Linked DNA regions of Homo sapiens: all the other regions are linked to region 3. Evidence: fine-mapped expression QTL. A gene starts in region 3. Each other region holds a variant in brackets. All regions are shown on one strand. Distances are from middle to middle.

What was found. PIP is the estimated chance that this variant, and not a neighbour inherited with it, causes the effect.
Region 1: its variant is the best candidate, but not a certain one, in a credible set for the expression of PHF19 in whole blood (TOPMed, PIP 0.70).
Region 2: its variant is the best candidate, but not a certain one, in a credible set for the expression of PHF19 in blood mononuclear cells (TOPMed, PIP 0.67).
Region 4: its variant is the best candidate, but not a certain one, in a credible set for the expression of PHF19 in CD8 T cells (CEDAR, PIP 0.81).

Annotation. Positions count from the first base shown.
Region 1 is chr9:120,944,698-120,950,572 of GRCh38, reverse strand. All of the region lies in intron 1 of C5-OT1 (C5 3' UTR overlapping transcript 1), which reads left to right. Among named protein-coding and RNA genes, the nearest start is that of C5-OT1, 5.2 kb to the left of the region's middle. RefSeq lists an enhancer at 5,678-5,727. The variant A/G (reference allele first, on the strand shown) is at 2,689.
Region 2 is chr9:120,915,736-120,919,735 of GRCh38, reverse strand. All of the region lies in intron 3 of TRAF1 (TNF receptor associated factor 1), which reads left to right. Among named protein-coding and RNA genes, the nearest start is that of TRAF1, 9.1 kb to the left of the region's middle. RefSeq lists an enhancer at 222-371. The variant C/A (reference allele first, on the strand shown) is at 2,270.
Region 3 is chr9:120,874,236-120,880,110 of GRCh38, reverse strand. PHF19 (PHD finger protein 19) reads left to right here and starts at 2,923. Exons shown (of 15, transcript NM_015651.3): 1 at 2,923-3,020; 2 at 5,355-5,555. The coding sequence starts at 5,370. RefSeq lists enhancers at 2,124-2,173, 2,434-2,483, 3,495-4,086 and silencers at 2,604-2,883, 3,124-3,173, 3,454-3,903.
Region 4 is chr9:120,778,053-120,783,927 of GRCh38, reverse strand. FBXW2 (F-box and WD repeat domain containing 2) reads left to right here. Exons shown (of 8, transcript NM_012164.4): 4 at 5,383-5,577. Among named protein-coding and RNA genes, the nearest start is that of FBXW2, 12 kb to the left of the region's middle. The variant G/ATGTG (reference allele first, on the strand shown) is at 2,253.

The DNA.
Region 1 (5,875 bases), 70 kb before region 3:
CTGAGTCTGTTCTATTCGCCAGTATCTCCTGTAGTTGGCACAATGTCGGGCACATCATAGGGACTCAATAAGTGTTTGTGGATTCCCCTACAGTGTAGAGAATCAGAAGACCCAAGTTCTAGTCTTGGCTTTGGCCCTAATTGGCAGTGATTTGGGACAAGCCTCTTAATCTCTTTGATAGCCTATAAAATAAGGGAATTGGACACTCTAATGTCTCTTTTATCTATAGCTAAGAAGATGTTCTATAATCTTATGATGTGAAACAGGAAAAACCAAACGGCATATAAGCATCCAAATATTGGGCTTATGTATTTCATTCTTTCTTTCTCTCTTTTTTTTTTTTTTTTTTTTTTGAGACACAGTTTTGCTCTTGTTGCCCAGGCTGGAGTGCAATGGCGCAATCTCGGCTCACTGCAACCTCCGCCTCCCGGGTTCAAGCAATTCTCCTGCCTCAGCCTTCCAAGTAGCTAGGATTACAGACATGTGCCACCACACCCAGCTAATTTTTTGTATTTAGTACAGATAGGTTTTCGCCATGTTGGTCAGGCTGGTCTCGAACGCCTGACCTCAGGTGATCTACCTCCCTTGGCCTCCCAAAGTGCCGGGATTACAGGCGTGAGCCACTATGGCCGGCCTGGGCTTACATATTTTGTCTGTAAGTATGGAGACAGTGCAGAGAAGTAAGCTGGAAGAGCTGCCAAGGCTTTCTGTAGAAGGACACTGGGATTTGGGTAGGTGGGAGGTACAGGGAAGGCCTTTCTGGTTAAGGGGCAACGCTTAAGGCAGGTTTCCCCAGGGGTAAGCAAGATGTTCTTAGGTGATACGATGCACATTGTTCACTTTAGTGGCTATATGTTTATTTTAACATGTATTTTAAAAAAGTAATTAGCACATCAAAGCCATGATGTAACATTTTCTTCCAAAATAAATCTATTTTCCAAGAAGTAAGTCTATTTAAGAAAAAGTATTGAGTAAATAAAAGTAAGTTTATTCTTAGGGCAAAAATCATGCAGTTGGCATGCAAATGATTGACGTTTAAGATACTCTGTCTTAAGAAAACACGTGGAGGTCTGTGAGCCAAGGTTGAGGCAAGCAGCCTTGCTCCATATTTCTCAGTGAGAAATTCTGGACCAAAGTCATGTTTAGTCTTTCTTTCCAGACCCTATGATGCTGATGTATTCAGCAACACCCAACAAACATGTATTGATTGGTGACTGCAGGCTAGGCCCAATTCTAGGTGCTTGGTACCAAGATCCCTGCCATTGTGGAACATAGATTCCAACTGGGAGAGATATGTAATAAAAAATAAAGAGAATAATTAAGCAATTAGTCTTGGATCTCAGAAAGTGATAAGAGCAATGGGAAAAAGAAAAAGCAGACTAAAGGAGACTGGTAATGGTCAGGGGAGGGGTTGCAGTTCTAAATAGGGTGGCCAGGTCAGGGTGGGCTTCAATGAGAAGGTGAAATTTGAGCAAAGACTTGAAGGATGTGAAAGAGTGAGCCACATAGCTAGCCAAGGGGAGAGTGTTCCTGGCACTCTTGGTACATAGTGTCCGGCCTAAGGCAGGAGCATGCTGGTGTGTCACAGGAAAAGCAAGGAAGCAGGGGTGGCAGGTGCAGATTATGAAGCCAATGGAAGAGGCTTTGGCTTTACTTGGAAGGAAACAGGAGCCATTGCAAGGCTTTGAAAAGAAGAGTGACATGGTCTGTCTTGCCTTTTTAAAGGACTACTGTAACTGCTGTTGAAAATAAGGCAAGGGTAAAGAGAACGGATAGGAGGCTACTGTAATAAACTAGGTGAGGGATGATGGTGCCTCAGACCAGAGTGGTAGCAGTGGAGGTATTGAAAAGTGGTTGAATTCTGGATATACTTTAAAAGTAAATGATACAGTTTGGATATTTGTCCCCCAAAATCACATGTTGAAATGTGATCCCCAGTGTTGGAAGTGAGGCGAGGTGGAAGATGTTTGGGCCATGGGAGTGGATCCCTCGTGAATGGCTTGGTGCCCTCCCCATGGTAATGAGAGTTCTTACTCTGTGAGTTACCACGAGATCTGATTGTTTATAAAGAGCCTGGCACCTCCTTCTAGCTGGTTGCTTCCTCTCTCACCATGTGCCACTTAGGCTCTTTTTTCCCTTCTACCATGACTGTAAGCTTCCTGAGGCCTCACCAGAAGCAGATGCTGGCACCATGCTTCCCGTATAGCCTGCAGAACCGTGCGCCAAACAAATCTCTTTTCTTTATAAATTATGCAGCCTCAGGTATTCCTTTATAGCAATACAAAAGGGACTAATACAGTAGGCTTAATTGAAGGGACTAATATTGTAGGTTTAACTGAATTCCCTGATAGAGTGGAAATAAGTGTGAGAGAAAGAAAGGAGTCAAGGATGATGCCAAGACTTTTGGCCTGAACAACTGGAAAGATGGAGTTGCCTGAGATTAGGAAGGCTGCAGATGGAGCAGGTTGTGGGGAGTTAGGAATCTGTTCAGTTTTGGATGTGTTGAATTTTAGAAGAAATCTATTAAACATCCAAGTGAAGGAGCCTGGAAGGCAATTGGTCATATAGTTATCTAGTTCAGGAGAGAGCTCTGGGCTGAAAAACATAAATCTGAGAATCATCAGCATACTAAAACCATTAGACTAGTTAAGATCACTAAGGATGTGAATACAGACAGAGGAGTGGAAA[A/G]AAAGAAGACCAAGGATAGACATTTTGAGCATTCCAAGATGAAGTTATTAGAGAAAAGAGATAGAGGATCCATTGAATTAGGAGAAAAAACAAGAGATGAGGTCCCCTCAAGCCAAACAAAAGAAAGAGGTTCTGGGAGGAAGAGTGTTGAACTGTATCAAATGCTTCAGAGAGAAGTAAGATGAAGACTTGGCTGTTGGGTTTAGCATTGGTGACTTTGACAGGGCAGGTTGGGTGGAGTAGTGGGAAGAATAGCCTGAATAGAGTGATTTAAGAGTAGATAGGAGGAGAGGATTTGGAGACAGGGAGTATGGACAACTCATTCAAGGAGCAAAGAAATGGATTGAGGGGAGTAGAGTGAAGGAAAGTTTAAGACGGAAGAAATAACACATTTGTGTTCTAAAGGGAATGACTCAGTAAAGAGTAAATAATTGACGATGCAGGAGAGAGAAAGGAGAACTACTAGAGTAATGTCCTTGAAGAGGTAAGAGTGGATAGGATCTGGAGCACAAGTGGAGGACTTGGCTTTAAATAAGAACATGACTAGCTCACCTATGCCAGGGGTCAGCAAACTTCTGTAAAGAGCCATGCATTAAAATAACTGTAATATTTTAGGCTTTGTGGGCCATAATTCTCATAAGTCTCTATTGCAACTGCTCAACTCTCTCATTGTAGCACAAATGCAGCCATAGATAATGCAGAAAAGAATGGGCATGGACTAGGCAGGCTGGATTTAGCCCTTGGGCAGCAGCATACCGATCCCTGATCCATGACCCATGGTTGTAGGCAGAGAAGCTGAGCACATGCAGCAGACGCTGGCAAGGGGTAGATGTGGTGAGAGTCTGTGGAAGTCCCTTTCTCAGAGAAGTAGGATGAAGATCATCACCTGAGATGGAGGATAGGGAGGAGCAATTGGAGGTGTGACGGGAGGAAAGAAGGGTGAGACAGTTATCTAAAAGAGAGGGAGGCTGAACCAACTAAGGACTTGTAATATATTTGCTTCTTCGTATTAAGGGTCCACTTGAAGTTTCTAGTCATGAATTTAAAGTGGGACTGATCAGCATGGGTTGTGGGATTTTCTCCAGCCACATACACATCCTTTTCAGAATCTAATGAAAGCTATAGACTTATCAATTCCCTCCAATCAAGACAACCAGGAATACCTGGAACTGAACAAGTTTCAGTTTATTGAGTCTTTGCAACAAGGGAGAACACACACCATGGGGACCATAAGGCTTCTCGGTGAGAGTGCATTAGAAAAGCCTTATTATAGGATTTGTACTTGTGATAGAGTATTTGGGAGGAGCCTCAAAGAAATGGAACTTTACTCTGGATTGGATGCTTTCAGGAAGCAGGGGCAATCCTATGACCCAGTATCTTATTTCTTTTCTAGCTGGGAGGAAAAGTAGCAGCACTTACTCACTTTAGCCAGGAAAAGGGTGTGTGTGGTCATTTTTGTGGTTTGGACAATGTTCTTGTTTTTATATCCTGCTCAAACATGATTATAGAGTAGTCGTTTTTAGTATGGATCCATTTTGTCTGATGTTGATGTTCTATGACATCAGACACAGAGAACACCCCAGCCTGGCTCTGGGCACCAGACTGGCTCCCAGGGACACCGAGGCCTCACGCCAGTTGTCCAGGGCCACTCTTCTCTTTCACAGACCCCTGTCCCAGAAACATGCACATACACACACCATGCTCACAGCCTCATACCTGACAGAGGCCCCCCGCCACCAAAATTCCACTCCTTCTCTGTTTCCATCATTATAGTCAGATATGTGTATGTTACATGCACAGTCATGAATTATACAAATCTAAAATGCCCACACCAGAAAGGACCTAGAGCTCATCTCATCCGATTCCTTCATTTTTTGCCTGTGAACATGGAGGTCCAGAGGAGCAGCTTGTCTAGGATTATGGTGCTGATAAATGGAAAGGCCAGGACAGAAGCCCAAGTGAGGCCTCTGAACACCGCATTCTTCCCACCACTGAGATGAGCAGGAGTTACAGAGACACCAGTTTTGGCTCCCTGTGAAGAAGCATTTTCTTATAGCCATAGCCATTCAAAAGTAGAGTCAGGTCCAAGTTCCTTATTGCTGGGGCCATCTGAGCAGAGTCTAGCTGCCACCTTCCAGGGATGTTTCTGGGCAATTCAAGGTAGGGGGCTTAATGTCCCTTCAGTGCTGAGAGACTTTTAATAGTCAAGAAAACATCTACTTGACTGCTTTAATAAAAAGGTGAAGTTTTCACATCTGAAAAACAGAAGTACTAATAATACCCAAGTCAGAGGATTTCTGCAAGGCTCAAATGAGATAATACAGATAATGCACATAAAATGATTAGCACAGTGCCTGGCACAATAAAAGTAACTTGTGGCTGGGTAATAATACCTCTCTGGCACACTAGAGGTGGTAAATTCAATAATTTTTTACCTGTGAACATCCTACTTAGATTCATAAAATATTGACATTTAAAGATCCTCTAGAGATCATCTCATCAATGCCTCCCCATTTCACAGACCAGGAAGCAGGCCCAGGGAGGAGCCAGGACTCACCAAGAGGGTTCCACAACAGAGCTGGGGCTAGAACCCGCAGCACCAGGCTCCTCTGCCTTCCTATATGCAGCCTGGTGTCTCCTCAGGGCCTAATAGAAACATTGCCTGCAGGGGCAAGCAGAGACCCGAGCCTGGTGGTGAGGGCCAGGGCTAACATGTCTAACAGATGAGTTGGGAGCAATCAGAGGGTTTTGGTGTTGTTGTTGTTAGGCTGGAGGGGTGTGTGTGTGTGTGTGTGTGTGTGTGTTGGTGTTGGAAGGGTGGTCGGTGGGAGGGGGGTTGAAACTGAATGAGACAAGAGAAATTGGAGTTAAGGAAAGGATTGTTTGGCTTAATAATATATTTTCCAAATAAAGAACCTTTAGGAAATTAGAGCCAGGACTAGACTGTAATTCTCTGAGGGCAAAGGAAGAGGAAGGGAAAGGAGATATGCTTAGAGTTGGAGGAGAAGGCAGAAAGGTTTCCTGAGTCTGTTAGGGCCTTGGGGCAAGGCTGGTCGTCATTCATCCTCTTCTTGCCTCCTCCTTTCACCTCTAAAGGCGAAAGGCCAAACTGTGGTCTGTTCATTAAATAAATGCTGGGTGTCGAAATTAAAATGGCTCACTGATTTGGCTATGTTGTGTGTGTGTG
Region 2 (4,000 bases), 41 kb before region 3:
GGGCTTCCTGGAGGAGGTGGCGGTCGAGCTGAGCAGAGGCTGACAGAGAGTAAACCGGCCCAGTTACAGAGGAGGGCAGGAACGGGCGGACAGTGGCAGACTGACCAAGCTCCCCATGTGACTGTAGAGCACCCCCTCAGCACCAGCTGAGACCTGAGTCACAGCAGCCCCTCCGGGCATCCCTGACCTCAGCCCAGTGTGGGGGTAGGCAGTGCCTGGCCTGCTCAGATCCTCTTTGTTCTGTGCAGGGGCTGCAGAGGTGGCACTCATGCTCCCAGCACCCTCTTAACAGTCACATTCCCGGAGGCCCCAGGTCTCAGAATGGGGCCCCCCGCTAGGGCCCACTGTGACCCCACCACAAAGGGCCTGGGTAGCCAGGGTGGCCGGAAACACCACACACGCAGAGACTCCTCAGACCCAGACAGAAGAACGAGTGTTCCCTCAGGGCTGGGAATCTGTTTTCTCTGTTTCTGTCTCCTCCTCGGAGGAAATTCCACTGCACACTTTATTTTTAGCAATTTGCAAGCAGTGAGGCCACTCACACAGGGGCCACTTGTGACACCAGACAGGGTTGGCCCAGGACAGATCCTCTGTTCTTCTCCTGCAATGCAGTCTGATTCCTGATTCCCTCTCCTGTCCCCTCGGTCCCTGGCCTTTGAGTGAGGCCACCCCAGGCAAGGACACTATGGTGGGGAGGACGGAGCCTGCACACGGACTCCAGGCTCCTGGGCTCCCCTCGCCTGCCCCGTTGCCTCCTGGAAGTCACTGATCGCCCCTGGGCTTCGGCTTCTCCACCTACCCGAGGGAAGCAGAACCTCAGAGCCCCAACCTCCCCCTCATGGCTGTGAGGATCTGATGGGACAGTGTCTACATGAGTGCCAGGAGAGCAGCAAGCCCATGCAGGGGCTCACAACTGTGAGAGAGAATGCACAGGTGTGCCCAGCTCCTCTGCTCACAAGCTCAGCATGACCTTAAGCCATTCCCTCTGTTTCTGCCTGTGTTAAGGTGACTCTAATACAGCCCCACCTGCCTCAGATGATTGTCACAGGGATCCTATGGGACAACATTCAAACATATTTTGGTCCTGTTCATTTAGGAATGTTCCTCACCACCTTGAGGAAATCCAGTGGGAAAATGGAGTTTTAGAGAGTTCATTGTTAAAGAGTTTGTGATGTGAGGATTAAATGAGATACATGTATATGACAGCCACTGAGGGATTGGGACTGGGAGATGTCCCGGGGCAGTGCTTAATCCACAGGAATAAGAATACTAATTAGTAGTAATACTAGTAGTATTACTACTATTAGTATTATTAGTGTTATTAGTAGCAGTAGTATTCAACAAGTATTCAGTAGTAGTATGGAATAATTTCAATAAATATGAGCCATTATTACTATTAATTTATTATTAGTAATAATGGCTCATATTTATTGAACACTGTGTTAGGCAGAATAATGTCCTCCAAAGATGTCCACATGTGAATCCCCAGGACCTGTGAGTATGTGACCTCACATGGCTCTATGCATTTGCCAGGGCTGCCATAACAAAGTGCACAGACTGGGTGGTGTAAACAACAGAAATGTATTTCCTCGCAGTTCTGGAGGCCAGAAGTTCAAGGCACGGTATTGGCGAGTTGGTTTCCTCCAAGGCCTCTCTCTTTGCCTTGACATGGCTGTCCCCTCCCTATGTCTTCATGTGGTCCTTCTTCAAATTTCCCCTTCCTAAAAGGATACCAGTCACATTGCATTAGGGCCCACCCCCAATGACCTCATTTTAATTTAATTAGCTCTTTAAAGGCCCTGTCTCCATATTCTGAGATACTGGTGGTTAGGACTTCAACATCTGATTTGGGTGGGGGTTGCTGAGCCCATAACAATGGCAAAACAGACTCTGCAGACACGATTAAATGAAGGATTCTGAGATGGGGAGGTGACCTTGGATTATCCAGGAGGCCCAAGTGTCCTCAGAAGAGGGAGATGAGGGTCAGAGAGAAGGGGAGATGCTCCACTGCTGGCTTTGAAGATGGAGGAAGGGACCACAAGCCAAGGAGTGCAGGCAGCCCTGAGAAGCTGGGGAAGGGAGGAAGCCATCCTCCCCTTGGGCCTCCAGGAGCAACGCAGTCCTGCTGACATTTCCATGTTAGGACCCCTGGCCTCCAGAACTGTACGATAATAAAGCTGTGTTGTTTTAAGCTGTTAAGTTTGTGGTATTTTGTTACAGCAGCAATGGGTAACTAATACCAGTGCTTACATGTATTATCTCATTTAAT[C/A]CTCACAATAACCCTGTAAGGGGGTATTATTATTATCCCCATTTTGCAGATGAGGAAACTGCAGAACAGAGGAGTTAGTAACTATCCCAGAGCCACAAAGCTAGTATGTGAAGTGACAGAAACAAGCTCTGAACCCCAAAAGGCTGGCTCCAGAGGCCACATCCTGAACTCCCGTGCACTCTAAGGAATGAATAATGATGATGGAGAAGCCTCTGAAAGCCTCTCAAGTCACCCCTGCCCCTTTCTCCAGCAACTGTTCAAGGCTCATCACAGTCCACATCTGTACACGCATCACAGAAGGATGTCCCTACATCTGAATAGCATTTCACTCCCTAAAACAGACATTTGCTGTTCACACAACGCCAGGACAGCTCCGCTGCTGAAAGACACATCCCCTCCACCTGCGGGGTGATGTCTGGAATTTCACTCTTAGCTTGATCATTTTCATGTTCTTATCTCTTTTATGACTCTCCCACCAAGCTTTGACCCTTAGAACCACAGACTATTGGAATCATGGACCTGTGGGGAGGGGTGGGACCTGAAAGGCTCCCCCAGGTATATTCACCAAGGAGCCAGGTCTACACATAGCATCTTCCCTCCACTGTTCTCACATGTCAAAAGCTACATGTTTGGGGAGGTTTCATCACCACAGACTTCCCGAAGCCAGCACGGTCTCCCTGCCAAGGCCGCCCTCTGCCTGCCTTCCATAGAACATCTGTTTTCTATTATTTATTGGGAACAACTTGTCCCTGAAGCCCTGGGCAGTTGGTGGGTGGGGGTGGGGGCAGGGTGGCCTTTGCTGGGCTGTGTTCTGTGTCTCAACCCAACTGTACTCATTAAGCCCACAGCTCTCTGGTTATGTTACTTTTAAAGAATAATAACTAGTGTGACTTTTTGTATTTGCTCAGTCCGAAAGACCTCTGTCCTCTCCTGCTTTCGTCCAAATCCCCTTTCACGTGGTTCCATGAGATTATTCTCTCAAAAAAAAATAAATAAATAACAAAGCGCTTATAGAATCAAGATTTTATTTATATGCCATAAAACTCACTCATTTTAAGTGTACAGTTTGATGAATATAAATAATCATGTAACCGCCACTACAGTCAAATGGCAAATGTTTCTGCACGGGATAAAGCTGCTTTGTGTCCCTGCATAGTCAGTCCCCTCCCCACCCACAGCTCCAGGAGGCAACCACTGATCTACTTCCTGTCACTCTAGTTTTGCCTTTGCTAGAAGCTCGTAAGAATGGAAACAGGTAGTATGTAGTCTTTGGTGTTTGACTTCTTTCACTTAGCATAATGTTTTTGAGGTTCATCCATGTTATTATTTATGCTGGTATTTAATTCCATTTGGTTGTTCTGTAGTATATATAGACCAATTTGTTTACCCACTCACCAGCTGATGACACATTTGGGTTGCTTTGAACAAAGCCGCCATGAACATTCACATACACACCTTTGTGCAGACATATGTTTTACTTTCTCTTAGGTAAATTCCTAGGAGTGAAATGTGTGGATTGTATGGTAACTTTATAAGTATGGTTTATAAGTAAATTATTTTATAAGTATGATTTAACTTTATAAGATACTTTCATAGATTGTATCTGTTCATTATTCATTTATTTTTTTTAAGAGAGACAAGGTCTTTCTCTGCTACCCAGGCTGGAGTACAGTGATGTGATCATAGCTCAGTGCAGCCTTGAACCCCTGGGCTCAAGCGATCCTCCCACCT
Region 3 (5,875 bases):
CACTTTCTTACAAGTTGCCAAACTGTTCTCCAAAATCGTTTTACCAGTTCATATCTCCATAGGTATTTGAGGGTCCCAACTGTGCGACATCCTCACCCCCCACCCCCCTATATTGACAGACTCGACTCCGTGCCCATCTGGTGGATGTGTAATGGTGTATCACAGTTCTCTTCATTTGCGTCTCTCACGTGGCCAATAAGGTTGAGCACCTTTTCACATTTTAGGCTATTTTAGCCATTTAGGTTTCCTCTTTTGTGAGTTGCCTGTTGATATCCTTAATCCATATTTAAAAAATTGGATTGTTGGTCAGCCCATTAAACTCCCTCCACCTGGCACACCCACCTCCCTATTTCCACAACCTAACTGATTGCTACTTTTTCCGGGAAACTTGTTCTCTTTCCTCAATTCGAATTTAGAGTTGCCTCTAAATAATCACTGGTGACACCGTACCTTTCTTGTGGCATTTATAATTTCCTGTTCTGTAGTGTTTTAACTTCTTATTTTGCATATCAAACTTTTTAGTTTACAAAAGCACCTGCTCCTTCATTGTCTTATTTGAACATTTATGCAACAGCCCCACGAGATGGGTAGTATTATTACCCTCTTTTCAACCGATAAAGAAACATGGTGTAGGAGGGTCTAGCTAACCCAAGACCCCGCCCTGGCTCAGAGGCAGAGCTGGACTTGAAGCCAGGACAATTCAATTCCACGTGCAGCTCACAGCACAATCCCCTCTTATTTATCTATGCATCAACACCGCCTCCTCCACGAGGTTGCCAGTTCCTTGTCTCTCATCCACCTGTGTGTCTCCCATCCACCTGTGTGTCTCACATCCCCCCGCTCTAGTCCCACACAGTGGGGCAATCAAGATTCTGAATACAGAATTTCTTAACAAAGTATTAATACAATGATCACTTACTGCACACCTACTGGGCACCAGGGGCTTTGCATACATTAACTCTAACCTTCCCAATAACTCTATTTAGGTGAGGACACGGAGGCTTAAGACTTAAAGTCTCTGGAGCAAGAATTGTTTAAAAAAAAAAGAAAGAAAGAAGTGACACACTCAGGCTCCCATGGCCAGTAATGGGTGGAGCTGGCCTGTAGCCTCAGAGGTGAGCACTTCGCTCTATCATCTCTGTCCCCCAGCATCCTGAAGGCAGACCCAGCCAGCTTAGAAGCTAGTGGGAGTGTTCTGCTCCCATCATCAGCCCTACCCGCGTTGGACACACCTTCTCTTGGCAGAACATGGTTAAGTAGCACAATCCTAGGGCCCCTTTGGGACTTGAAAATGTGCTCTCCAGGATTGGGAGATTTTGTGCCATGGGGCTGCTCCCAGGCTTTCCTTCCAGGTTCAGGCAGGTACTCAGCAGTGCTAGGTTCTGCTGAGGCGCCAGGATCCAGAATGGGGCAGTGAGGCAGGTGAGAGCAGGGGGATCAAGGGGCAGAAGGAAGTGAGGAAGGAGGTGAAAGGACTCCTGGATCTCTGCTGAGAAGGTGAGGTGGGGGGCTGCACAGATCATGCTCCAAGGCCAGGAGGCAGAGGGCCCAGAGTGAGCAACTGACAGTGAACAGGGAAGGCTCTGGGGGAAGGTGCTGTCCACTGGCCACACCCATGAAAGCACATATCCCTGTCTGGTGGGGGTGTCTGCAGAGTGGGATGGTAGCCACAGAGGTGGGCGCTGTGGACTGAGGGCAAGGATGGGGGTGGGGTTATTGGTAAGTGTTCTTCCTCCCTTCCCCCAAGAGTGAGTCTGGGTGGGGCCATGTCTGCCTTTCCCCCACAGGGCAGGGTCCCTATGATTGGAGCTCTGCCCACTGACTCCATCTGCCATTCCTATGACTCTGTGCATGTTGTCTTTCATTGTGTGCCCTTTATTTACATGACATGTTGTGCGTGTGGTATATATTTGCGATTGTACCATGTATTTCTGTGCACTGTGTCTCTACGCAATTTGTTGTTTGGGGCTATTTCGGCCATGTAGGTTTCCTCTTTTGTGAATTGCCTTTTGATATCCTTAACCCGTATTTTAAAAATTGCATTGTTAGCCCACTGAATTCCCTCCACCTGGCACACCCACTAACCTATTTCCACAACCTATCTGAATGCCACTTTTTCAGGAAAACTTGTGTCTCTTGCCCGTCTGTGTTGTGACTTTATGTGTTATGTCCGTCTACCTTACATGCATGTTCTGTTGTGTGTCTCTGTTGTGTACAGTGTGTTCCCCCTTGTGTATCTATGCCTATGGCTGGTGTGTACAGTACTTCTCTTTGTGGTGTGTTTGTGTCCTGTACATGCTGTGGTGTGTTCTGACCTGTGTCGGAACAACATGCGTTGTGCACTGTGTGTTGTGTATCTACATTATACTTGTGCTGTGTCTCTGTGCCGAACGCCTGTGCTGTTAGTGCAAGGTGTTGTGTGGCCTGTTTGGGCGTCCTGGGTCTGTGTCTGCGCCAAGGGTCCGCGCCGCCCTGCTGTGTGTCTGTGCCAGGGTCCGCCGGTGCCTGCGCGCAGAGCTGTGTTTCCTCAACAAGTGTGCGAGCGGTCGTGTGCGCCATGAGCGCTGCCTGGCGTCTCCGTGTGCGCCGCGGTGTGGCCGCTCCTCGGCGGGGGGCCCGGGTCCTGGCTAGTGGCCGCGGAGGATGCGCGCCCGCGGGGCGGGCGGGGGCGGGCGGGGGCTGGCGGCGCTGCGGAGCCCGGCGGCCGCGGGCTCCAATGGCGAGGCCGGCGCGGCCCCCGCTAATTACATAAGCGGGACGTCAATAATTCGCGGGAAAACGCGAAAAAGATGGCGCCCCGCGCCCGGGGGGCCCCTTCCTGAGCGCCCCGGCCCCTCCCTCCGCCGCCTCCCCCTCCTCCCCGCGGCGCCCCCGCCCCGCCCCGCCCCCGCCGAGACCCCGACCCCGGCCCCACGGGCGGACACTCGGCCGGGCAGCCGCGGGCCGAGCGCAGCCGCCTCCGCCACCGATGCGCCTGGTGGCCAGACTCCAAGTGGGACCGGCGGACACGCAGCCTCGCGGTGAGTTCTGCGCTGTTGGGCGGACTCCCCGCCACGCTCTCCCCTCCCGGCCCTCATCCCTCTCTTTTCGAAATCTCCCTGAACTTTGGCGGCCCGAACGCCTCCGGGGGGTGAGACTCCTGCGGAGCGGGGCTCTCGGGGGTGGGGACCGGGGGTGCAGGTTACCTGCGGGGCAGAGGGGCCCCACCCGGGTTCCCGAGCCCCGGGGGGCATGGGTGACAGGTCGTTCTTCCTCGCCCCCGATCTTTAATTTTCCTATCGGGGTGGGGGAAGGACAGACGGGCGTTTGGCATTTCGCTCACGTCCGAAGTCAGGCTGCGGCAGGGTTGGGATGGGGGAGGCTTGGCGTCCGAGCGACTGAGGAGAGGAGCGCTGAACCCGAAGGGGGTGCTTCTGCAAGCTTTTTCCCCCCTCCTGAACATCCTTTTTAAAAAGCCAACGGCCGCCCTGGGAGAGGCCCCGGCGCATGAATCATCCTCGCTTCCTGCCCCCGCCCGGCCCCGCGCTCCCGGTGCCGCGGATTTGAACTGGACGCAGACGGGAACCCGCAAACAGGCATTTCTTTGCAAATGGGTTTGAATCAGCCAATCACAGCCCGCGGGGGCCCGCTCCGGGAGGACGGAGGCGGGGGCTGGGGGGGCGCCACCCGGGGGCCCCCGCCCGGCCAGGGTGGAGGCGGGTGCGGCGACCCGGCCGGCTCCTAGAGGCGCAGCGGGAGAGGAAGTGTCAGTTTGTGAACCTGCAGCGGCCCCGGCCTGGCCCCTGGCCGGGCGGGCGGGGACCTCGCAGCGCCGGGCGAGCCAGGTGGCAGGGAGAGGACAGGGATTCAGACCGCATCCCCTGCCCGGGAGCCTGTGCGCTCTGCGCTGGAGAAAAAGGAGATGGGAGTGGGGGTGGAGAAGGTCGTGGCCACGCCACCATCTGGGGAGCCGAGACCCCTGCAGTGCCTGGCTCGCCCCAGGGCCCCGCACATACTTAGCTTCACACACTCCCTGGCACAATGCCGTAGACATCATCCTGCCCAGTCTCACAGGAGTACACACACGCACCACACAGAAACAGGCACTGGACTCTCTCCCTGTGAACAGATAGTCACAACACCAGGTGCCCAGCGCCATGGCCACAAGGAGGAGACCCGAGTAGGCCCGCGGGGAAAGAGAGAGGCTGTGTGTGGCTGTAGTGGAGAGCATGTGGAGGGACTTGGAGCCAGGTGAGCCCAGCAGAAAGGAGGGGGCGTTAGGGACGGCTTTGAGCACCAGTGAGGGCAGTGGGGAGCCCCAGAAAGTTTCTGGAAGGAAATTGGTGGCCCTGCGGAAGAGTCTGGTGGAGAGGCAGGAATGCAGGAACGGCCTGTTTAGCACTGGGTGCTGGTAGTACCGTTCCCCACCCTAGGTGCCTAGTGGAGGTAAGCACAAGGCCCAGGAAACTGTTATTGGGTGAATGAATGAATGAATGAATGGCCCAAGCAAAAGATGAGGCCTGAACTGAGACCAGGGCAGGAGGATGGAAGCTAGAGCTGGAAAGCCAGAAATCATGGCACTTAAAATGGGCCGGCTGTGGCAACTAATTGCTTGGAGGAGTTTGAGATGCATGAAGGCAGTACCACAGGCAGGGAGAGAGAAATCGATGGGTGAACTGCACGTTGAATAGGATGGTGAGAGACAGGCGTGGAGAGGCTGGCATGGGGATGGATGACTTCACTGCTTGGAGCAAATGTGTATCTGGGTGAAAGCATAAGTGGGTTTAAATGTCCCAGAATTGGTTTCCATTAAATCATCTCATAATTGAGAACAGAAGGGGGGATTACAAAAGACAGATGACCCAGTCTACACTAGCTACAAGCCACCCAGTTTTCCTTTCTAGGTGAATTTTCTCTGGACAGATCTCAGGTTAGGGATGGTTGCAGGGGTTGGGGGTAAAAACAAAACCCAACTGCTTGCCTGGAGAAGATCCTCCATCCAGAGCACATGGACTGTGTTTGCTTAAGGAATAAAACCTCAGCCTCCTGAGACAGGGAGTGGTTCAGGCCCGCTGGGTAGGGGACTTTGTTCTGTGTGGGTTGAGAGATCCATTCTCTTTAAAAGGTAGTGTGGTATGGGCCATGGCTCTGCCTTTGGCCCATCAGCCTCTTCTCCTTGCCACACCTGTTTCCCTATCTGTAAGATGTGAATAATAATAATGTCTCCCTCATAGGATGGTCACGAGGAATCAGTGAGATAATAACCAAGTCTGGCTTATAGCACAGGGTACAGAAATGGTGGTTTCCTTCCTTCCCCTGATGGGCTTTCTGAAGCAGGGAAGCAAGAAGCAAAAACCCTGTTCTTTCTCTCCCAGTGTCAGGGGAAGCTGATGGAGAATCGAGCTCTGGATCCAGGGACTCGGGACTCCTATGGTGCCACCAGCCACCTCCCCAACAAGGGGGCCCTGGCGAAGGTCAAGAACAACTTCAAAGACTTGATGTCCAAACTGACGGAGGGCCAGTATGTGCTGTGCCGGTGGACAGATGGCCTGTACTACCTCGGGAAGATCAAGAGGGTAAACCCATCCTCTCTGGCCCCTGTTCTCAGACTCAGAATCTCTCTGCTCATGTTCCAGCCTGGCTGTCAGACCAGGGGGCAGGGGGATTGCTGGAGAATTCCCTTCTTGTCCCTCATGCCCAAAGCTGGTGGTGGGAGGGGCCAGAGCCTGGTCTTGCAGGCACCATCCCTAGGGTCAACATCATCCAACTAGTTCTTTAGAAAAGTGCTCTGAGAGCCTACAAAACAAAAAAGTCAGGTTTGAGAGGATCACAGAGGAGCATCTGACTTGTGCTTCTGTCCTCAACATTCTGACCAAGTTGCCATCCATCGGTCCCT
Region 4 (5,875 bases), 96 kb after region 3:
TGGCAATAAACTTAGTGACTCTCACATTAGTGCCTTGAGTAAGCAATAGACAGTTTTATTGAAGAGATTAATGGCTAATGACATTGAGGTAGTTATCTTTCTCTTTCGCAATTTATTTCTGAAATGGTAAGAAAGGAATCTATTATGCTTTGTGCTGTTCAGTAGATATTTACTTATGGGATGCCTACTGTTTGAAAAACAATGTGAGGGCATACACGGATGAATTAGAGCAGTTTTTTCTTGTGGAACATACACACTGGGACCAGGAAGATGACCTGACTGAGGTAAAAGTCTCTGTGTGGACTATAGCAAATCAAGAACACTTGCCTTTCTAAAGAGTGCAGCTGGTGCTCCATTGTAATAAATTATTGCCATGTGGGTGGGATTCAGGGTCAGAGTTGTTAGATCTGACTTCAAGAGAAGCCTGAAATCTAGAGTTCTGTGCAATAGTCTGATTTTTTTTAAAGTATTATTAAGATTTTTAAGATACTGAATGGGGAGGGATTTTTTTCTTTCGTGCAGTGTGAGAGTCCACATTTCTTTAGTCCTCTTTCACCTCTATGCTGCATCACTGGTGACCTCTTTGAAAACATGTTGGGTTAGCCAGTGCAGCAAATGGGAGTCCAGAGGGGAGGCTGACATAAAGCCAGAAAGGAGCAGAGAACAGTGATTCCTAAAGGATTCTCAGGAGTAGACTTGCATCACTATAAATGGAACTCGACTCAACCTGATTATTATTATTTTTTTTTAGGGTGTAAAACTGGCACAATGTTTTCCTATAAAAACTAGTTTAAATAATTAGTTTGGATAACCTTTTTTTTTGCAAATTGTGCGAAAACATACATAACATAAAATTTACCATTTTAATCATTTTAAAGCATACAGTTGAGTGCCATTAAGTACATTACGTTGTTGTGCAGTCATCACCACTATCCATTTCCAGAACTTTACATCTTCCCAAACTAAAATGGTATCAGTTAAACACTATACAGTGTTAACTGTATAAACAGTATATAATACACTATATAGTTAAACTGTATCCAATTTTTTTGTTTGTTTTTGGGGGGGTTTTCTTTTGAGATAAGGTCTCACTCTGTAGCCCAGGTTGGAGTGGTTGGAGTACAGTGACATGATCTTGGCTCACTGTAACTTCTACCTCCTGGACTCAAGCGATTCTTCCACTTTGGCCTCCCAAGTAGCTGGGACTACGTGTGTGTGCCACCATGCCCAGCTAATTTTTGTATTTTTTATGGAGATGGGGTCTCACCATGTTTCCCAGGATGATCTCTAACTCCTGGGCTTAAGCACTCTTCTTGCCTCAGCTTCCTGAAGTGTTGGGATTACAGGCATGAGCCACCATGTCCAGCCTAAACCCTGTCAGTTAAACATTGCCCATGCCCCTTCCCCCACAGCCTGTGGCAAAACAACCATTCTGCTTGCTTGCTTGTTTTATTTTTTTTTTTGAGACAGAGTCTCAATTTGGTGCCCAGGCTGGAGTGCAGTGGCTCAATTTTGGCTCACTGCAACCTCACCTCCCAGGTTCAAGCGATTATCCTGCCTCAGCCTCCCGAGTAGCTGGGATTACAGGCATGCGCCACCGTGTCTGGCTAATTTTTGTATTTTTAGTACAGACGGGGTTTCAACGTGTTGGCCAGGCTGGTCTCAAACTCCTGACCTCAGGTGAACCAGCCTCGGCCTCCCAAAGTTCTGGGATTACAGGCATGAGCCACCATGCCTGGCCCACCATTCTACTTTCTATGAATTTGACTACTCTAGGAACCTAATATAAGTGGAATCATACAGTATTTGTTCTTTTGTGGCTGGCTTAGTTCACTTAGCATGATGTCTTCAAGGTTCTTCCATATCATAACATCTCAGAATTTTATTCTTTTTTTTTTTTTTTTGAGACGGAGTTTTGCACTTGTTGCCCAGGCTGGAGTGCAGTGGCGCCATCTTGGCTCACCGCAACCTCCGCCTCCCGGGTTCAAGCAATTCTTCTGTCTTAGCCTCCCAAGTAGCTGGGATTACAGGCGTGCGCCACCACGCCTGGCTAATTTTTGTATTTTTATTAGAGATGGGATTTCTCCACGTTGGTAAGGCAGGTCTCAAACTCCTGACCTCAGGTGATCCTCCCGCCTCGGCCTCCCAAAGTGTTGGGATTACAGGTGTGAGCCACCACACCCGGCCAATTTTATTCCTTTTTAAGGCTGAATAACTCCATTCCATGTATGTATATATGTGTGTGTGTGTAT[G/ATGTG]TGTGTGTGTGTGTGTGTGTGTGTGTGTGTGTGTGTGTGTATGTATATAAAATATATTCCATGTATGTGTCACATTTTGTTTGTCCTCTCCCCTGGTTTTTAACTGCCTTCTTGCCTCTAGTTTTCCCCCCTTCAAACCTTTTTCCATGATATAGCCATAGTGATCTTTCTGATATGCAAATAAGGTCATAGTTAAACAACCTCCTAACCCAGTTCTGCAGCCAAACCTTGCCACTATTTCGCAGTCAGACTGAACTGTTTTCATAATCAGTGTTCATGTTTTAGGCAGTGCTTTTGACAAGCATTGTAAATAACTCCTAGACGGTTTTTTGAATGATTCCAAATAGTTCTTTATGACTTGATCCCAGTTCCTTTTCAATAATTTTTGTGTTGCATATAGAGATATTTAATAGTTGCTTTAATAGGTATATACCAGGGATTGGCAAACTGTGGACTGTGGGCCAAATCCAGCAGAAGAGAGTAATTGCAACTCAATAGGTCAACGTCTAAAATACTTACTATCAGGCCCTTTACAGAAAAAGTTTTGGTATATACTATTCCTTTTGTTTTGTTTTGGCCTGGCTAACTTATTCATCCTTAGGTTTAAATTAGTTAAAACTTAAAGGTTTTTTTTTTTTTGCCATGATATTCTTTCTTGAAACAGTCCTATACCAAAGCCCAGCTTAAAAACAAAAGAGGAGTGTAGTTGAAGAACCAATCATGCCAGTTCCTAAGGCACGTGTTATAGAGCATGGTCATAAATTCAGTGGAGCCTCGTCTGAGATGTTTTCTCTTCTTGTCCTCTCCTTGTATTTGCTATGGGCTTTTGTAGTGCCTGCCAGCTACTATACTGAATTATTATTGCTTGTTTAGCCTTTTTGTCTTCCCAAGTAGACTGAGTGCCATGAGAACAAGAATCCTGCCTGACACAGAAGTTCTATAAATATATGTTGAATGAATGAATGAGACCCCAGTTGAACACTGGTAACCAAAACCAAGCTCATAAAGGACCTAAAATGATTTCCTTTCCTACTCTAGCTCCTTAGGAATACAGTCACAACATGCCTGAACTGAAGGCCTTAAAGACTATCTAGGCTTACGCTCTCCGGTACAGTAGCCACTAGCGCCATGTGGTTTTTGAGTACTTGAGCTGTGGCTAGTCCAAATGGAGGTGTGAAATACTGGGTTTCAAAGACATACAATGTAAAAGAATATAAAATATCTCAATATTTGTATTGATTACATGTTCAAATGACATTTTTGACATACTGAGTTAAACACATTTAATTATTTTAACACATTTTCTTTTTTTTTTTTTTTTGAAACAGAGTCTTCCTCTGTTGCCCAGGCTGGAGTGCAGTGGTGTGATCTTGGCTCACTACAACCTCCTCCCGGGTTCAAGTGATTCTCCTGCCTCAGCCTCCTGAGTAGCTGGGACTACAGGCGTACGCCATCATGCCTGGCTAATTTTTGTATTTTTTTTAGTGGAGACAGGGTTTCACCATGTTGGCTAACATTTCTTTTTTTTTTTTTTTTCTTTGAGGTGGAGGCCCTCTGTAGTCCAAGCTGGAATGCAGTGGCGTGATCTCAGCTCATTGCAACCTCTGCCTCCCCAGCTCAAGCGATTCTCATGCCTCAGCCTTCCGAGTAGCTGGGAATATAGGCGCGCCATCATGCCCGGCTGATTTTTTTTATTTTAGTAGAGACAGGGTTTCGCGATGGTCTTGAACTCCTGAGCTCAGGCAATATGCCTGCCTTGGCCTCCTAAAGTGCTGAGATTACAGGCATGAGCCACTGCGCCCGGCCCAACATTTCTTTTTTAATGTAACTATTAGGACATTTTAAATTATATCTGCAGTTTGCATTATATTTTCTGTTGGATAGCACCGTTCTAGACCATTGGCTCTCAAAATATTGCTGATGAGTTAGAATCACCTGGCAAACTTTTAAGATTATTGGACCCTGCCTCAGATGTTCCCCAAGTTAAACTCTCTGAAAATAGGGACCTGCCTGTGTGTTTTGATAAAGTTGTATCACATGGCCATTGAGAACCAACCAAGTCCTACCCCTCTTTTTATACAGAAGGAAACAGTCTAAATAGCAAAGTGACAATAAATACAGTCTTTATTTCAGTATGCTATCATAGTTTTCCCAGGTTAAAATTCATACTCTAGCTCTTTCATAAGTGATGGCTATTTTTCCATTGTCTCAAACAGTGGTTCTTGACTGAAGGTAGAATTGTGGCTGGCTTTAGTCATTTCAGCTTTTTAAAAACTGGTCATTTGGTGCTTTCCTAGGATACTGTGCCATTATCATAGTGACTGTATTTAGTGGATTCTCAAAAATGTCTTTTTATTTGTTGAGGCTTATTGAAGGGTCATTGTAAGAATGAATTAATCATTAGGATTTTAAACTTAAAGCAAAGTCCTGAATTGTCACCATGATTAGTATAGAATTTTCATCAGAGGCAGAAATAAAGCCAACTTTTCCCTTCAGAATCTTAAGAGGCTTTACAAACTTTTTGTTGAGTTGTGAATATCTGGGGATAATTTATCCCAGGTTTTCCTTGAGGTTTCTTCCTTCACGTATTTCAAGATGACTGGAGCAATTAGCAGTTAGCTTTTGCAGAAGTTAGCCCAGGCTCTGAGGTTTGTCCTTGACTTGCCTTAGAGTGGAATATATTTCAGCAAACACCTTTACTATTTAACAATCCTTATTTGTTCAGAACTGTTGGGTAATGGACAAGCATGCAAGTGTAAACATGCAGTCATGTGTAATACCTATTTATTTGAAGTCAAATCAGAGAGCTCGTGATAGCCAAGGATTTATGAAATTTTTCAAGTGGAAGCACCAAGGGATGCTTTTAGTCTAATGACCTTCTGTAGCCTGAAAAGTTAAGGGAAAGTGTCTCACCCAAAAAGCTTGGATTCTGTCCTAGTGCTTTTGACTCCGTTTTGGTGACTCTAAGCAAGTTGTGTTACTCTCTCCGTGCTTTGATTTCTTCAGTGGTAAAGTAAAGTGCTAGAGGAAGGGACCGTTAATGTTCTTGAAGAACACCATGATTTTGGGATTGATTTTCCTTCTTTAGTGTGTTTGTTTTCTTATTAACCTCCCTGTTTTTCTCTTGAAGGGTCAGATGACTTGTCTGCAAAGCTGTGGGATGTGAGCACAGGGCAGTGCGTTTATGGCATCCAGACCCACACTTGTGCAGCGGTGAAGTTTGATGAACAGAAGCTTGTGACAGGCTCCTTTGACAACACTGTGGCTTGCTGGGAATGGAGTTCCGGAGCCAGGACCCAGCACTTTCGGGGGCACACGGGGGCGGGTGGGTTGCCCTTTTTCAAGGGTTTTTACAACTTAGCCTCATCCTTTTAAGCCAGGAGCCAAGAATGTGAAATGCTTTTTTTTTTTTAATTTAACCTGCTTTTTTCAACCCTCTTTCTTAGTCATTGCAGTTATTTCCCTTTATTCTAGTTACTCTTATTTCGAATGTTTTACCCAGTTTTGCTTTTTCTTGCTTTCTTCTATGTGTGTACCCTTCTGGTGGGAAGGGTAGTTTTCATTCTCTCTCTGTTTCTCTCTCTCTCTCTCATTCTCTCTCTCCCCCCTCCTGTTTCATTTAT